Regions from separate parts of the Homo sapiens genome. Here region 2 is linked to region 1. A link means that fine-mapping ties the variant in region 1 to the expression of a gene that starts in the linked region. Tissue or cell type: whole blood. Region 1 holds a variant in brackets; the other region holds the start of a gene. All regions are shown on one strand. Distances are from middle to middle.

Region 1 (8,104 bases):
TCGAGTGAAATCCTGCTGCGAGGCCCACATTGTAGAGTTGCTGTCGAGGACTGTGGGGGAGGCGGAAAGTTGCCGGCGGGCTCCTGAGAGTGACTGAGCAGGGGGCTTTGGTAACAGGTCCCTGGGGAGATAAGAGATGGACCCAGGACAGAAATCGGAATGCAGGACTTGGGAATGCAAACTTCCCATGGCAGGGACGGGACGCGAGGTGGGTGGGAAGAGCAATGTACGATGCGGGAGACGCCACCGTGCTTGTGGGAAGGGCAGCGTCACCATGCTAGGAGGAAGGGGCCTTGGCAAGGAATGGGGAGTTGGGGCTCCCCGTGACAGTGAGGGAGGAGGTGGGAGGAGGGGCCTGGCCGTGCATTGTCCCTTCCAGGTGCCCGCCAGAGGGCGCGTCAGCCCTCAAATAAAGATCTGGAGGCTCACAGTCGCAGTTCTGCCCAGATGACCCCATCTCTGACCTTTGTGTTGGCCCACTAGGTGTTGGGGTCCCACCAGCCATTTGACGACAGCTACCCATAGCCTCCGGGCTGGGACACCTGCAGCTGTGTGGCTCTTCTAGGGGAGCAAAGGGAAGAAAACCACCAGCTAAAGTGCCTGGAGTTTGCTGGCTAAAGGGGAAGAAGGAAAAATGCTGTTGGGATTTGCAGGACCCCTAACTCATGACCCCATGTCTGGTTTTGGGTCTTTCTTGTAAAATACACATAACATGAAATTTAACACTTTAGCTATTTTTTTTTTCTTTTGAGGCGCAGTCTCGCTCTGTTGCCCAGGCTGGAGTGCAGTCGCCCGATTTCGGTTCACTGCAACCTCTGCCTCCTGGGTTCAAGTGATTCTCCTGCCTCAGCCTCCCGAGTAGCTGGGATTACAGGTGCCCGGCTCATCTTAGCTATTTTAAAGTGTACAATTCCGTGGCATTAGGTACATCACAATGTTGCACAACCATCACCACCCTCTAGTTTCAGAACTTTTTTGTCATCCCAAAAGGAATTCCAGACCCATTAAGAAGTGGCGTCCCATTCCCCTTTGCCAGTCCCTGGCAACCACTAACCTGCTTTCTGTCTCTAAGGACTGGCCTTTTGTGGATATTTCATGTAGATAGAATCATGCAGTATTGGCCTTTTGTGTCTGGCTTATTTCACATAGCATAATATTTTCAGGTTCACCCATGTGGTAGTGTGTATCACAGCTTCATTCTTTTTATGGCTGAGTAATGCTCCGTTGTATATTTACACCACATTTTGATCCATTCTTCAATTGGGGGACACTTGGGTTGTTTCTTTTTGGCTACTGTGAATAATGCTTCTGTGAACACTGGTGTCCAAGAAATGTTTAAGTCCCTGTTTTCCATTTTTGGGGGCATATACTTAAGAGTGGAGCTGCTGGGTCACATGTTAACTCTGAGGAGTTGCCAAACTGTTTTTCACAGTGGCTGCTCCGTGGTATTCCTATCAGCAACGTAGGAGGGTTCCAATTTCCCCACATTCTCACCAACATTTGTTATTTTCTGTGGTTTTGGTGGCTGTCATAGCCATCCTAGGGTGTGTGAAGTGATCTATTACATGTGGCTTTGATTTCCATTTCCCGGATGACTGGTGATGTGGAGTGTCTTTTTCTTTTAGCTGGTTCCCAGCCTCCAGTCTTGTCCCTTCCCCCCATTCTATCCCTAGAAGAACAGCTACAGTCCTCCTTCTGAAACCCAACTCTGATTATGTCTCCCCCAGCTCAGAACCACCCCCAAATGCCTTCCAACTCTCTCTGGAAAGGAGGACACATTCCTGCCCTCCCTGCCTCCAAAACACACACCCTCTGTGCTCCAGCCCCTAGAAAATTCTCCCAATTGCTAAAATCCATTCCTTTGCCTCTGCCCTTCTGTCTGTCTGGAACATTCTCCTATGCTCTCTGCTACCCTGCTTCCCCCGCTGAGTCCTTCCATCCTTCTGACCTTACGTACTCCCTATCACCTTTCACTTCCAGGTTATGTGACTTTCTCTGGGCTCACACACCCCACCCCTTTACAGCCCTCCTCCTCCACCATGTCACTTTCCACTCTGACTTGTAATCTCCAGTTCAGTGGTCAGTTTCCCTTCAAAGAGGGAATTCCACACGGGTCATGGTCAGCTCTGTGGGCCCAGCCTCATCTCCTCAGTGCCCAGCACAGCGGGGGTCAGTAAGACTGTGCCAACTGGCCACGGGGATGGAAAGGTGGTGGGGAAGGGGCACAGGTGTGTTTGATTACTATCATTAGCCCTGTTTGCTTTCTCTGCGTGGAATCAACTTTACCCTGGTTGTGACAGTTTTGGTCAAGGGGGTCCCACCTGTTGCCCACATACACCTGAATTTCAACTATGGCACATCCTGAGCTCAAGCTGGGTCCCTCTATCCACGGCTGAGGGACAACAGGATGCACTCTCTGTCCATCTGGTTATTTCTAAAGCACCAATTGCCTTTAACTTGCCTCTGGGTATAAGAACCACGGCTCTCTTTGACTCTTGCAACTCCTCGGGCTGTCCCTATTTTCGCTTTTTTTTTTTTTTTTTTTGAGATGGAGTCTCACCCTGATACCCAGGCTGGAGTGCAGTGGTGCGATCTTGGCTCACGGCAACCTCTGTCTCCTGGGTTCAAGTGATTCTCCCTGCCTCAGCCTCCCGAATAGCTGGGATTACAGCCGCCCACCAATATCCCTTACCTTTAGCAAGCAATCTGCACATTCCAAGTTTAATTACAGCTCCTTATGGTTTCTTTTCTTTTCTTTTTTCTCTTTTCTTTCTTTCTCTCTCTCTTTTTTTTTTTTTTTTTGAGATGGAGTCTCGTTCTGTCACCCAGGCTGGAGTGGAGTGGCGCAATCTTGCTTCAGGGCTCTGCCTCCTGGGCTCAGGTGATTCTCCTGCCTCAGCCTCCTGAGTAGCTGGGATGATAGGCATGCCACCATGCCTGGCTAATTTTGTATTTTTATTAGAGACGGGTTTCACCACGTTGGCCAGGCTGGTCTCGAACTCGTGACCTCAGGTGATCCACCCGCCTCGGCCTCCCAAAGTGCTGGGATTACGGCTGTGAACCACTGTGTCCGGCCACTCCTTATGGTTTCTTATAAGTAGAGACACTAACAGAAGATGGTGTGTTCCTCCTCCTGCTTTCTGAGGATGCTCCACTCTACAACAGAGTAGTTTCTAATAAACTTGTTTCTTTCACGCTGCACTCTGTGACCTGCCTTTAATTCCTTCCTGCGTGAGATCCAAGACTCTTGGGGTCTGGATCAGGACCCTCTCTTTCCAGCAACATTATCTTGAAGGCAATAGGCAGCCACAGACGTTCTGGGGACAAGGGGTGTGTAAGTGAGGCAGAGGGGAGAAGGGAGAGACAGAGAGCTTTGGAGA[T/A]TGGAGGTCAGGGGTGGTAAAAGATTCCTCTGTAAGTAGCAGCCATCTCAGGATTTCTTCAAAAGAAGGGAGCCAATGAATGAGAAAGAAGCCAGAGGAGAGGAGACAGTAGATTCAGTGGGGGAAAGGGGGTGATCAGGGAATGGAGGCAAAAGCAAGGAGTGAAGGAGGAAAGGGGTCCAGCTTCATCACCCCTTCCTCTCCTTCCAGAAAGGGATCCTCAGACCGAAGGGTTCCCCCAGTGCCTCTCAGATGCTGGTCCCCAGCCTGGTGGCAGCAGCAACAGCATCACCAACACATCGGGAACTTGTTAGAAACACAGTCTTGGGCCCCACCCATGCCTACTGAATCAAAATTTCTTTCTCTTCTCTTCTCTTCTCTTCTCCCTTCTCTTTCCTTTCTTCCTTCCTTCCTCTTTGTTTCTTCCTTCCTTTCTTTTCTTCTCTTCTCTCTCTCTCTCCTCCCTCCCTTTCTTTTCCTTTTTTTTTTTTTTTTTCTGAGACAGAGTCTCACTCTGTCACTCAGGCTGGAATGCAGTGGCGCAATCTCAGCTCACTGCAGCCTCCACCTCCCAGATTCAAGTAATTCTTGTGCCTCAGCCTCCCAAGTAGCTGGAATTACAGGCACGCACCATCATGCCCAGCTAATTTTTGTATTTCTAGTAGAGACAGGGTTTCACCATGTTGGCCAGGCTGGTCTCAAACATCTGACCTCAGGTGATCCACCTGCCTCGGCTTCCCAAAGTGCTGGGATTACAGGCGTGCACCACCATACCCAGTTAATTTTTGTATGTTTAGTATAGACAGGGTTTCACCATGTTGGACAGGCTGGTCCTGACTTCAAGTGATCTGCCCGCCTCGGCCTCCCCAAGTGCTGGGATTACAGGTGTGAGCCACTGTGCCCAGCCCTGAATCAGAATTTCTGGGAGTGGGTCCACCACACTTTTAACAAGGCCTCCAGGGGATTTGATGTGTGCTCCAATGTAAGAACCACTGGCTGAGACAGCCACGAAAAAGAGAGTGTTCCTCAGTCTTTGCTTTCAGGGACACTGGTAAAAGATTAGAGGCCCAGAGCCAGGCACGCTCAGGCCAGAGCAGGGGAGGAAGAGGAAAGCGGCCCCGTGTCCCTCCCACAGTCACCCACTGTTGGCTTCAGGCCAAGATCAGCCTTCTCAAGCAAAGGAGATTCACCTGGAGCTGAGACTCTGACTCTTGGCTCTGGCGAACAGCTCAACTCAACTCCCCATCTTTGCACAGACGCTGGCTCTTGTAGGGTGGTTTGAATCCAGTCCAAAGACGTATCCCCCTAAAAATGTCTCCCTCTATCTTAACTCCTACCATGAAAATACTTGGTGGGTCCCTGTCTTACTACCCCCAATTCAAGGGCTCATAGGTTAACCTGAGATACCGCCAGCAGCAGCTTGGCTCAGCGGGGTTGGTTGTGTGGCCACGTCTGGTGATTGATTGACAGCCATTCAGGGCCAGGATACCTGACCGAGATTCTGACCCAGGGCTTGACAACCCATTAGGCTCACGTTTAAAAGCAGCAGCACCGCAGGATAGGGGCAGCACCTGGGTGTGGAAGGGAGGGTCTGGGGCTGGGAGAGGATGTGGGGATTCTTATGCCTGGCTGGGTCTTAGCTTGGCTGACTTCCCATGTCTAGGGTTTGACCTTCTTCCTTCAGAGGTGAGTTTCCTGCCATGGGGGGTTTGAGTGAGCCCCCAGACCAGCATTCTGGGGGCTTTGGAAAGAGAGTTGTCTGGTAAGAGGGTGGGGAGCTCTGTGTTCCTAGCTCTGGGAGAGAGAAGAGAAGGGAATCGGTGATACTGACTCTTCCTCCTGCTCTTTCTAGAAAGCCTTGTTTTATTCTTAGGGTGAAATTCTGGCAAATTTGGAGGCTGAAGCCCTGGTTAAATAGTTTCACTGCTTTTAAACTTTATGTAGGCCCCAAAAGGGGGTCTGAGCAGTGGTGGTCTCTGCTGGGAGTTTCCATGCTCCAAGCTCAGCCCTGGTGTCTCCAATTAGAGGAGCCTGACGCAAGTCAAGGAGAGTGCGTTAAATTATTTAAACAACTAAGAATCAGGAGGATCAACATTTGGGGTGAGATGAGAAAGGCTCCAGATCCAACCATTTTTAACATAGGTTTGAATGTCCAGAAATATGCAGAAAAGGTACTGAGTTATGCAGTGACAAATCTCCCTCCCATTCTTCTTTCCTATTTGCCAATTTCCATCTCTGAAAGGCAACCACTGTTTCTAATTTCTTATATACAAAGATAAATTTAATTTCCATTTTTCTTTTACATAAAAGTTGCATATTTGGCACATTTTTCTGAACATTGCAGTTTTCACCCACTTATTAATACACCTTGGAATATTCCATATCAATGTATGCATCCTTGTTATTTTATTTTATTTTATTTTATTTATTTATTTTGAGACAGAGTTTCACTCTGCCACCCAGGCTGGAGTGCATTGGCACGATCTCGGCTCACTGCAACCTCCGCCTCCCGGGTTCAAGCAATTCTCCTGCCTCAGCCTCCTGAGTAGCTGGGATTACAGGTGCGTGGCACCACACCTGGCTAATTTTTGTAGTTTTAGTAGAGACAGCGTTTCACCTTGTTGGTCAGGCTGGTCTTGAACTCCTGACCTCATGATCTGCCTGCCTCGGCCTCCCAAAGTGCTGGGATTACAGGCGTGAGCTACCGTGCCTAGCCATGTCCTTGTTATTTTTAATAGCTGCATACCATTCTACCATATGGCTATACTCTAACTTATTGCACCAGTCTCCTCCCATGGCCATTTGGGCATTGGCCAGACATCTGCCAAATCCCAGGCTGGAATGCAGTGGTGCAATCTTGGCTCTGCAAAGGTTATAACAAACAATGTCCCAATATTGTCACAAACAGTGCTGCTGTTCTCCAGCTTGTACATCTATTATTTTGCATATATCCAAGTGCACCTCTAGGGTACATTTTTAGAAGTGGAAGTACTAGGTTAAAGGTCACTGCATCGGTAATAATGGCGGATATTGCCTTCCTTCTAATAGGGAGGTAGGAAAGGAGGTGGTTTAGAGCTATGCAGGACAGGGTTCGAACCTCCTCTCTGTGTTTTCTAGCAGTTTGATCATGGACCCAGTGCTCTCCAAGCTCCAGTTTTAAAAAATCTATAAAATGGGGCCCATATAGTTGTGAGCATAAAATGAGATCAGCTATGTAAAGCATTTAGTTCAGGGCCAAACACACAGAGAAGTAAAACTCTCCCCTGCATCTTCCCAAGGACAGGTAGCCTGGGCCCCCACCCTGGTGCTTGCCATAGAGTTCGTGGGTGTTTGAGAGCCAGCTATTGAGCCTGGCTGTCAAGCTGGTGGTTCTCACTTGAAGATCCTTTCCCCGCGCATTGTCTTGTCCCATCCCTAAGGCTCCTGATGTGCTCTGTTCATAGAACCCTGGGTCTCTCCAGGGCCTTCCTAGGGCTGGCTGTTGGGCAGGAGCCTTCCTGAAGGAGGGTATTTGGTCTACTTAAATCCTCAAAGCTCTGGTCCCTGACACAGGCCTCAAATAAGTGTACTATCTTCTATTGATTGTTTACCACTAGCCTTGTACAATGCCGAGTATTCTACTTGAGTGATTGCATCCAGTTCTCAGAATTATCCCATAGGGTAGGAAATAGTAATCACCTCCAAGCCAACTTCATCATTAGATAGCCTTGCCCCGTCCAAGTAGGACACCTTATATTCTTATGATCTCTTGGGGTTTCCTCCAACCCCTCTAGGTGAGAGACACATGTTGTATGTGGAATTTCCTGTTGCCTTATATTTTATTTAGCTTAGGTATGAGCCCTCATTTGAAATATGTACAGCCAGATGAAAAGGTGAGTTTGATTTTTTTGAGACGGAGTCTTGCTTTGTTGACCAGGCTGGAGTGCAGTGGCACGATCTCACCTCAGTGCAACCTCCGCCTCCTCTGTTCAAGTGATTCTCCTGCCTCAGCCTCCCAAGTAGCTGGGATTACAGGCACGTGCCATCATGCCCGGCTAATTTTTGTATTTTCAGTAGAGATTGGGTTTCACAATGTTGGCCAGGCTGGTCTCAAACTCCTGGCCTTGTGATCTGCCTGCCTCAGCCTCCCAAAGAGCTGGGATTACAGGTGTGAGCCACCGTGCCCGGCAGGTGAGTTTGATTTTTAAATGACCAGAAATACAGTCCATTTGCATAAAAGGAAAAATACAATGCCTGGCACTAACATCTCAAAGTGCTTGTGTGACGCTTTCACCCTTGACATCATTGCCGCCAACACCTAATGTGAAAAGCTAGTTGGCAACCACTCTTTTGAATCTTTTCACCAAAGGAGACATTCTCTGCCCCTTCTAAAGAGACCCTACAGAGCACATGTGCATAGCTGCGTCTCTTTTTTTTCACCTTACAGGGGATCAGGACACACTGGGAACCTGGTGTCTGTTTGGCGGGTCTATTTGTCAAGTCCTAGAACCGGGTGGTCCAGACACCTCACTGATCTAAGAACATGAGTGGAGAGAAGGAAGAGGCATCGCTCAGAATGTTCGGGGCTTATGGTGAGCCAGAGGAGAGGAGGGATGTGCTGGAAAGCTCTGGCGTTTCCTCTCAGCCTGAGCCACAAGTGCAGCAGCAACTGGGCAGTCTGTTGGGAGTGCCCTGGCAGCCCCCGGGCCCCCCAATACAGCACAGCCCTGCTGATCAAGAGACAA
Region 2 (8,104 bases), 25 kb before region 1:
GATAGTATTAATTTAAACTCTATACTTAATGATGCAAACTATGATTATAAATTTTTAGAAGACATTTCTACTACCACTTCAAAGCTTAGGCAAGGACCATAAGATTCTTTGTTATCTCTCTTTGTTCATGAGATTTTTAAAAAATTTATCCTTTCATGATTGGATGAGTGTATGTGTGTGAGAAAAGTCTCTGTTCCTATTCCTTGTTCCTGTAATATGCCTCCTGCATATTATAATTCTGCTTTCTCAGATATCAAGACTTACAACTCTTCACCATTCCCACCCCTGTTGGCCAAAGCATCAGCTGAGGTCCTCAGTCCAAACCAATGCCTCTGGTTTTAGTTTCTTGTTTGGTTTTGGTACGTGGGTACACTTTCCTGTGAGTTAAGTATTTAAAATGATGTCGAATATTATATCTTATTCTAAATTTCTAGATTCTAGTTTATATTATTTGCTACATTGCCCTCAACTGAATTCTGCGTAATATTTATTGTCTTAAACTTATTGTTGTGAGATATTAATATAGCTGTGCCATTTTCCCTTTCCCTTAATACTTGTCTGATATATCTATTTTCCATTCTTTGACTTTCAATACTTGTGCTTTCTTAAGTTTCAGTAGTACCTTATAAGCATCTAACATTTTCTTTCCTTCCTTCCTTCCTTTCTTTCTCTTTCTTTCTCTTTCTCTCTCTCTTTCTTTCTTTCTCTCTCCTTCTCTCTCTCTTTTTTTTTTTGACGGAGTCTCATTCTGTCACCCAGGCTGGAGTGCAGTGGCATGATCTTGGCTCACTACAACCTCCGCCTCTCGGGTTCAAGCAATTCTCCTGCCCCAGCTTCCCCAGTAGCTGGGATTACAGGTGTGCGCCACCACGCTGGGCTAATTTTTGTATTTTTAGTAAAGACAAGGTTTCACCATGTTGGCCAGGCTGGTCTTGAACTCCTGAGCTCAGGTGATCTGTCCACGTTGGCCTCTCAAAGTGCTGGGATTATAGGCATGAGGCACTGTCCAGTCACTTCTAACATTTTTTCTGCGTAAATTTTAGAATCATTTTCACAAGTTTTAAAACAAATCCTATAGGGGTTTTATTTGGTATGACGTTGGACTTATGGATTAAATAAAGAAAACTACCCTTCCTACTGAAGGATTACCTGTGCCTTTCCATTTACACAAGGGGTTTTCATTGGTTTAGTCCCCAAATGTTTAAAATTTTCTTGATATATGTCTTATACATTTATTAGTAAACTTATTCCTATATATGTTTGGTTGCTTTGAGAATAAGACCTTGCCCTACCCTAGTACATTTCTCCACATAGATTAAATGATTTATTCACAGAACTCACAACATCAATAAGTAGGTAAAAATTTTGTAGCCTGAAAACAGCCTTGAACTCCTGGAATGAACATCAACCAGACAGTTGTTTTGCCACAGTTTTCATGAGAAGAAGCAGGCAAAGCCATCTTTACTCTGTCCTATTAAAACTGGAAACAACAAGAAATATTTTTTCTTTTTTGAGACGGAGTTTCGCTCTTGTCGCCCAGGCTGGAGTGCAATGGCGCTATCTCAGCCCACCACAACTTCCGCCTCCTGGGTTCAGGCGATTCTCTGGCCTCAGCCTCCCGAGTAGCTGGGAATACAGGCATGCGCCACCACGCCTGGCTAATTTTGTATTTTTAGTAGAGACAGAGTTTCTCCACGTTAGTCAGGCTGGTCTCGAACTCCCAACCTCAGGTAACTCCCCCCACCTCAGCCTGCCAAAGTGCTGGGATTCCAGGTGTGAGCCACCACGCCTGGCCAACAAAAAAGATTTTTTTTAACATGAGAAGATTGTCAGCTTTCCCTGGTGGTCAGAGAGGAAGGGCTTTAGAGAGGTCTTGGGGCTGCAGGGACAAAGGGTGCAGGAGAAGAAGCCTTAGAGCTGAGCAGGAGGAAACTGACACTACATGGCTGCAGGCCCAGCATGGAAATGAACTTCTAGAATGCTGTAGTCGAAGAGCCAGCTTAATTTTTTAACTCTTGTGTTGTGTGATTTTTCCATCCTTCCTCATTTCTAGGGGTATTAGTTAGGCTATGGGCTTGGAAATTAATTTGAAGAACCCAAATAAATGTGGTTTAAATTTGATGAAAGTTTATTTCTCTCTCATGTATCATCAGAAAGTAAGCCATCTGGGGCTGATATAGCAGCTCTGTGCCTCCTCCTTTTAGTTGCTCTGTCATCCCCAGCAGCCACACCCTTATTCACATGGTCCAAGATGCTCTGATGCTCTCCCTTGTCAACATTCCACCTGGTCGATGAAGGTTTGGGGGCAGGGAGGGCATGTCCCTTGTCTTTAAGGACACAGCATCACATTTTCTTACAGCCTGTTTGCCAGAAGTTGGTCACATGGACACACTTTGCCTTAAAGAATGCTGGGAAATGTGTGCTTTTTCCCTGAGCTGTCATGTCCCTTGCTAGAGATTCTGTAACCTTATAAGAATGGAAGAACAGGGGCTGACAGACAAGAACTGATCTCCATCTCTCCAGACCTACCATAGAGCTTTTGAAACTTGGTTTGTGCATTATTATCTCATTTTTCTGATATGTCTGAAGTAGGAGTAGGAGCTTTGTGGTTATTTAGAGAGCTTTATTTTCTCAACTGTAAAATTAGGCAATGGGTTTATGATGCAAACATTTGGGGCCAGCATTTATGTGATCTGATTCCTTCCTATTTCTTTCAACAAGTCCTCACTCCTGATTTCTGACCCTAGAAAGAAGTGAAAACCAGAACTTATTGACAAGAGCAACGTAATCCCCAGCTATTACTCTGCCCAATCATTTTCTTAATGAACTCATTTTGGAAAACAGTGAAGATCAGGGTCAGGGCAAGGCAGAGAAGGGCACCTGGCCATGGTCACTGTCAAGGTCCAAGGCATAAGACATATCCTACCCTTGGGGACACACAAAGTAGGCTTCTGCCTAAGAGTTAGGGCTGGAGCCTTTGGACCATTGTCAACAACAAATGTTTATTGCTCTCCTTCTTTCTGCCAGTTATTCTCTAGCTGAGGATGATGATGTTGAACAAGATAGATACAGTGTCTGTTCCCTGCAGCCACCAGAGAAGACAGACATATAAATAAACTATCACCATTAAGTAAGTACACAGTGCTGTGATGGCACATAAATGAGTGTCCTGCCTTATTCTGGGTGATGAGGGAAGGCTTGCTTCCCATGCAAAATGGGATTTGAGCTCACACTTCCAGTAACAGTCAAGATGGAGGGTAGGAATGGGAAGGGAAGGGCATTCTAGATTTAGAGAACAGCATTTTTAGCATGTAGGGCTGAGGTAGAGTCAGGGAATGAATGGGAGTGATAAGAAGCCACAGAGGCAAGTGGGAGCCAAATACCAGTCTCCAGTGCAGCAGCGTTGGATGGATCAGAGCTGGAAGGAAGAAAAGCCCACATTACCAGGGTTAGGGGGTGTGTGAGGGGGTGGGGATTTTAAGGGTCGTCCAATCCAGTGGCATTTAGTACTGTCTCCCTTCCCCCAGGGCTCATTTTGGAATTTTATGGTAGGTATTTTGTTATATTTGGTGTCAGTGGTAACATTGCTACTAGCGTTGTGGATAGGAGCCAGGATCCTGCAATGTACAGGACAGTCCTGCCCACTGAAAAAATGTTCACACTTTCAAATGTCTTGCTGAACATTCAGGTAGGTGAAAATTCTATTTCTAAATTATCTGAATCTAAACCTGTTTTCTGGATAAACATGTATTTTTGCACAGTTTTAACATACACTGATCTTCCAGGAATGTAATTATTGTATAATCAAGAGACGATTGTCCTGTGTTTCATTCAGAACTTCACGAAAACATGTTTGCCATTTTGGATCATAATTTTGTGACTTTTGCAACAATGTAAGTCACAGCTTTGTGGCTGTGGCACTCAGACAACGTCTATGTGTAAAGGCGACCACCTTATTAGGTCTCCTGCAGCAGCCAAGACCAAACACATTGAAGTATGTGTTTTTAAACGACAGATGACGGTCCTCTTTTTTTTCTCTTTCATTACACTTAAGGCATAACATTAGTTTTTAATATGTAGGTGTGTATGTTATGTATGATTTTCTAGGCCATTATATATGAATATCAGGTCAGGAGAATAAGATGGACATTACAAACTATTTGTTAGAAAAAGGGGGCATTGGGTGTGACAGCGCGCCATCCACTGGTCCATTTCCAAGACTCCCACACGTGGCTGCACCTGCAGCTTCACCTCCCCGGGCTGGGTCCCCGCTTGGCTCTGATTCTTACCTGCCCCATTCCCCAGGGGTAACAGTCACCGTGGGCCAGACCCGAGCTAGCCGACAGGGATGCGGCCACAGCTGGCCGGGCGTGACCACCACCGAGGCGCAGCGACCTTGCTCCTAGAGAGGCCCGGCCGCCTGGTGACGCACTTCCGGCAGCGCCGGGGAGCAGTCCGCTACGGAGGTGAGTGCAGGGCTCCGGGCGCTGTGTGCCGTGCCCTGTCCCCCAGGCTCTGGGTCCGGTTGAGACGCACTCCCACCCTGGGTGCTGCAGGGTCTCCCGTGGCCTACGCTGCCAGGAGGCCCAGGCTGGGAGAGGGAGCAGGGCGGCGGCCCGGGGTGCTCTTCCGCGCTCCTCGACTCCAGCTTTGGTCTTTGTGGCTCAATAGCTTGCGCCCATTGGAAGGGGAAACGCACGTTGCTGTCCCAGCCACGAGGCCCTGAGCATTTAGCACTTGGTCGACGGGGGAAGATGTGTCGGTGCAGCTAAAAGATGGAATATTTGCGGGCGTGAAGCGGCCCGAGGTGATACCACAAGTCTTTTGACATGCTGAGGTCTGGCAGGAACATTAACCTATGTGCATCCCGAGTATGGACCGTGTGCTCCCAGGCTCCTGACATAGGGTCATGAATTAGGGCCGAGTGGGAGCGCAGAGCCCCTCCCAGTCACCCGGCAGCAGAAGCAGCCCGGCTTTTGGAGGACATTGTCTCCTGGAGCAGTGTCAGTCCCAAAAGGTAACTCAGCCCTGCTTCTCTCGGCTCAGGGTTGACAGTGACCTGGGAATGACTTCTACAACGTAATTACGAATTCACTCAGTTTTAGAATATATTTAGTAGTCTCAGAATCGCTAATTCATACCCCCATGAAAAGCAAATTTACTACCTAAAGTACAGTACTTGGATACAGGTCTTTTTGTCTTTACTCTTATGGTATTTAGTCAAAATACTGTTTTCCAAAGTTGCTTACCCCTTTTCTTTCCTACCACTTAAGTGTGGTTATGTTCACTGTAGTATAGTTAAGCACATTGGCTGTTCTTTGTATTACATTTTGGGTCCTCAATTTCACCCCATCCTTGCTGGTTTATATATTTATTTAAAATATATATTTATATGTTACATATATAGTAGTAAACATCCATGAACACACCACCCAATTAAGAAAGAGAAGATTGCCAGTACTGCTGAATTTATCAATGTGTTCCTCCTCCTCAACCCAACTCCCAGCCTCCAACCCCTAGAGGTAACAGTTATATTGACTTTTGTGTTAATTGTAGCCCTGTTATTTTAAAAAATAATTACATATGCATGTATCTGTAAGCAATGTACTTAAATTTTTTTTTTGAGCTTCATATAAATGGCACCATTGTGTGTATAAGTCATCTGGGACTCGCATAATTCAATGTTAAGTTTCCAAATTCATTCTGTGTGTAGCTTCTGGGTAATGTTCCATTGTAAAAACTGTATGAAAATTTATCGATGTATTTTCAATGGACATGTGGGTTGTTTTCAGTGTTTTGTTATTAAAATGTGCTGATAATATTTTTGTACGTACTTCCTACATATGAGAGTTTCTCTAGTGTGTAAGTTTTTAAAATTAGGCACAAATGTTGAATTATGTTAAACATCTTTGGCATCTGTTGAGATGGACAGTGTGTTTATCTTTCTTTGATTTATTAATGTGAAAAATATACTAATTAGTATCTTCGTGGGATAATCCTACTTACTCATGATGTATTTAATGAACTATTGGAGTCTATTCCTTGATAGAATTTTTGCATTAGAATTCATAAATGAGACTGGTCTGTAGTTTTTGCATCAGTATTGTGCTGGCACCATAAAAAGAATTGGGAAACTTACTTTGCTGTGCTCTGCTACGGTTTACATAGTGTTAGAATTACTCATTTCCGAAACATTGAAAGAATTTGCTCATGACACATCTGAGCTCAGTGTTTTGTGAGAGTTAGTTCTTCACTGGCCATCTTGGTTTAATTAGGTAAAAGTAATCAAGGATTATGTAGAAAATCTATATAATGTCATAACAGGAAAAAACCTGGAATCGTATTTAAAAAAAAAAACTATCCCCTTGGGAGGGAGCCAAGAGACCAAAGAATGCCTTGGACGAGTCCAGCTTGGCAAGTAGATGAGTTTATTAGGACTTACATACTTACTCCTGGATGGCAGCAGGACAGCTTTAGAGACCTGTGATGCCCCTCGTCTCTAAGTACTTTTTAGAGAATTTTCTGGCTGTTTGCCTACTGCATTTAAACGATGAGACTTTTCTTGGTAGGTTCTCATATACTTTCTAGGATGTTTACGTTCTTGCAAACACCTGCTCCTCTGCTGAGCCCCATGGTCTTGACTCACTGCCCGGTCTTCAAGGTTCAGGCAGCAGGTATACACCCTTGACTAGCTGAGCGGGGTAGCTATCACACTACATATGTAATTGGTAGAGTTGGTTTATTATCTAAAAATGGAGTTGTATATTCTCCCATCACAGAATAAGTTTTCTCTTTAAACACCAGATAATATATTTTTTTAAATGGACATGAGTCACAAAAAAACCCTGAAAAATGTGTAAAGTAGAAGTTAGTAGATTGGGTTATATAACCATCATGCAATAAAGCCAGAACTTATAAACAGAAGAAATTAGCAACAGTAAACTATCCTAAGCAATTACTAGGTCAGAGACAAAACAGAATTGCTGACTGACTATAAAACAGTAATTAAAACATGAAATATAAAAACCTCTGGAATGTGGCAAATAGTGTATCCCAAGGAAAATTTGTGGCCTTATAGGCTTTAATTGCCAAATAGGAAGAATGAAAATAAATGAATAAGTCATGCAACCTCAAGAAGGTGGGAAAAAAGCCTTTTGTAGTCTAAGCTTCCCCAAAAGCAGAACGTGGAACAAAGATTTGTATGTAGGAATTTATTTAGGAATATGGTCACAGGGGCAGAGTGAAAGACAAGGGGAGTGAAACAGAGATGGGAGAACTGGTACAAGGATGCATTGGTATGCTCGGCCCTCAACAGGCTCTGCCTTGCAGGGCGTTTGAGGAGCCTTGGAGTCTTAAGGCTGCCCCGCTGGGGGATCGACGGGGAAAACATTTATCCATTGGTTTCTCTCCCCTATTGGTCAAGGGGGTCCCACAGGTGTTAATGCCTCTGCACTTCAGGGCCCAGCAGGTGTCCACAGGTGTCCCACATAGGACACCAGAGAAGCCCCAGGGCAGGAACCAGGCATAGGTGATGTAGGTCCTTGTGAAGGTTCTGGTAGCTTGCAGCTTCACAAAGCTGACTAACCTCTGTAGAACTGGACTGAGGATGGGATAAGAGGATTGGAGTGGTGCTTACACTGCCCCTTACAGAGCTGAAGGAACAAACTAAGAGCAGAATTAGTGAATTTAAAACAAATAGAAGAAAGTAGTGTTGCTCAACTAGAAAAGCTGGTTCTTTGAAAATAAAAGGAAACCACATTAAAATAAGTAAAACACTGCTCAGCCTAACTGTATTAGTCTGCTTGGGCTGCCATAACAAAATACCATAGACTGGGTGGCTTCACCAACATACTTATTTCTCACAGTCCTGGAGACTGGAAGTCCAGGATCAAGGTGCCAGCTGATTTTGGCTCCTGCCAGGGTTGCCTTCCTGGCTTATAGATAGTAGCCCTCTCGTTGTGTCCTCACATGGGGGAGGCGGGGAGTGAGTGGTTTCGTGGGCTCTGGGTCTCTCCTTCTTCTTGTAAAGGCATCACCCCTATTGGACCTCATTTAACCTTAGGACCTTTAGTCCCACCCTTAGGACCTCATTTATCCTTGTAAC

Evidence for each region. PIP is the estimated chance that this variant, and not a neighbour inherited with it, causes the effect.
Region 2: it holds the start of ZNF23, and the variant in region 1 is fine-mapped to the expression of ZNF23 in whole blood (TOPMed, PIP above 0.99).

What each region holds. Positions count from the first base shown.
Region 1 is chr16:71,433,123-71,441,226 of GRCh38, reverse strand. TLE7 (TLE family member 7) reads left to right here. Exons shown (of 10, transcript NM_001367365.2): 2 at 7,807-8,104. The coding sequence starts at 7,903. Among named protein-coding and RNA genes, the nearest start is that of TLE7, 4.9 kb to the left of the region's middle. The variant T/A (reference allele first, on the strand shown) is at 3,381.
Region 2 is chr16:71,458,572-71,466,675 of GRCh38, reverse strand. ZNF23 (zinc finger protein 23) reads left to right here and starts at 4,429. Exons shown (of 5, transcript NM_001381984.1): 1 at 4,429-4,466. It overlaps LOC124903709 (a long non-coding RNA gene), which reads right to left and starts at 4,364. Exons shown (of 2, transcript XR_007065105.1): 1 at 3,384-4,364; 2 at 1-2,743. RefSeq lists enhancers at 4,311-4,470, 4,741-4,830.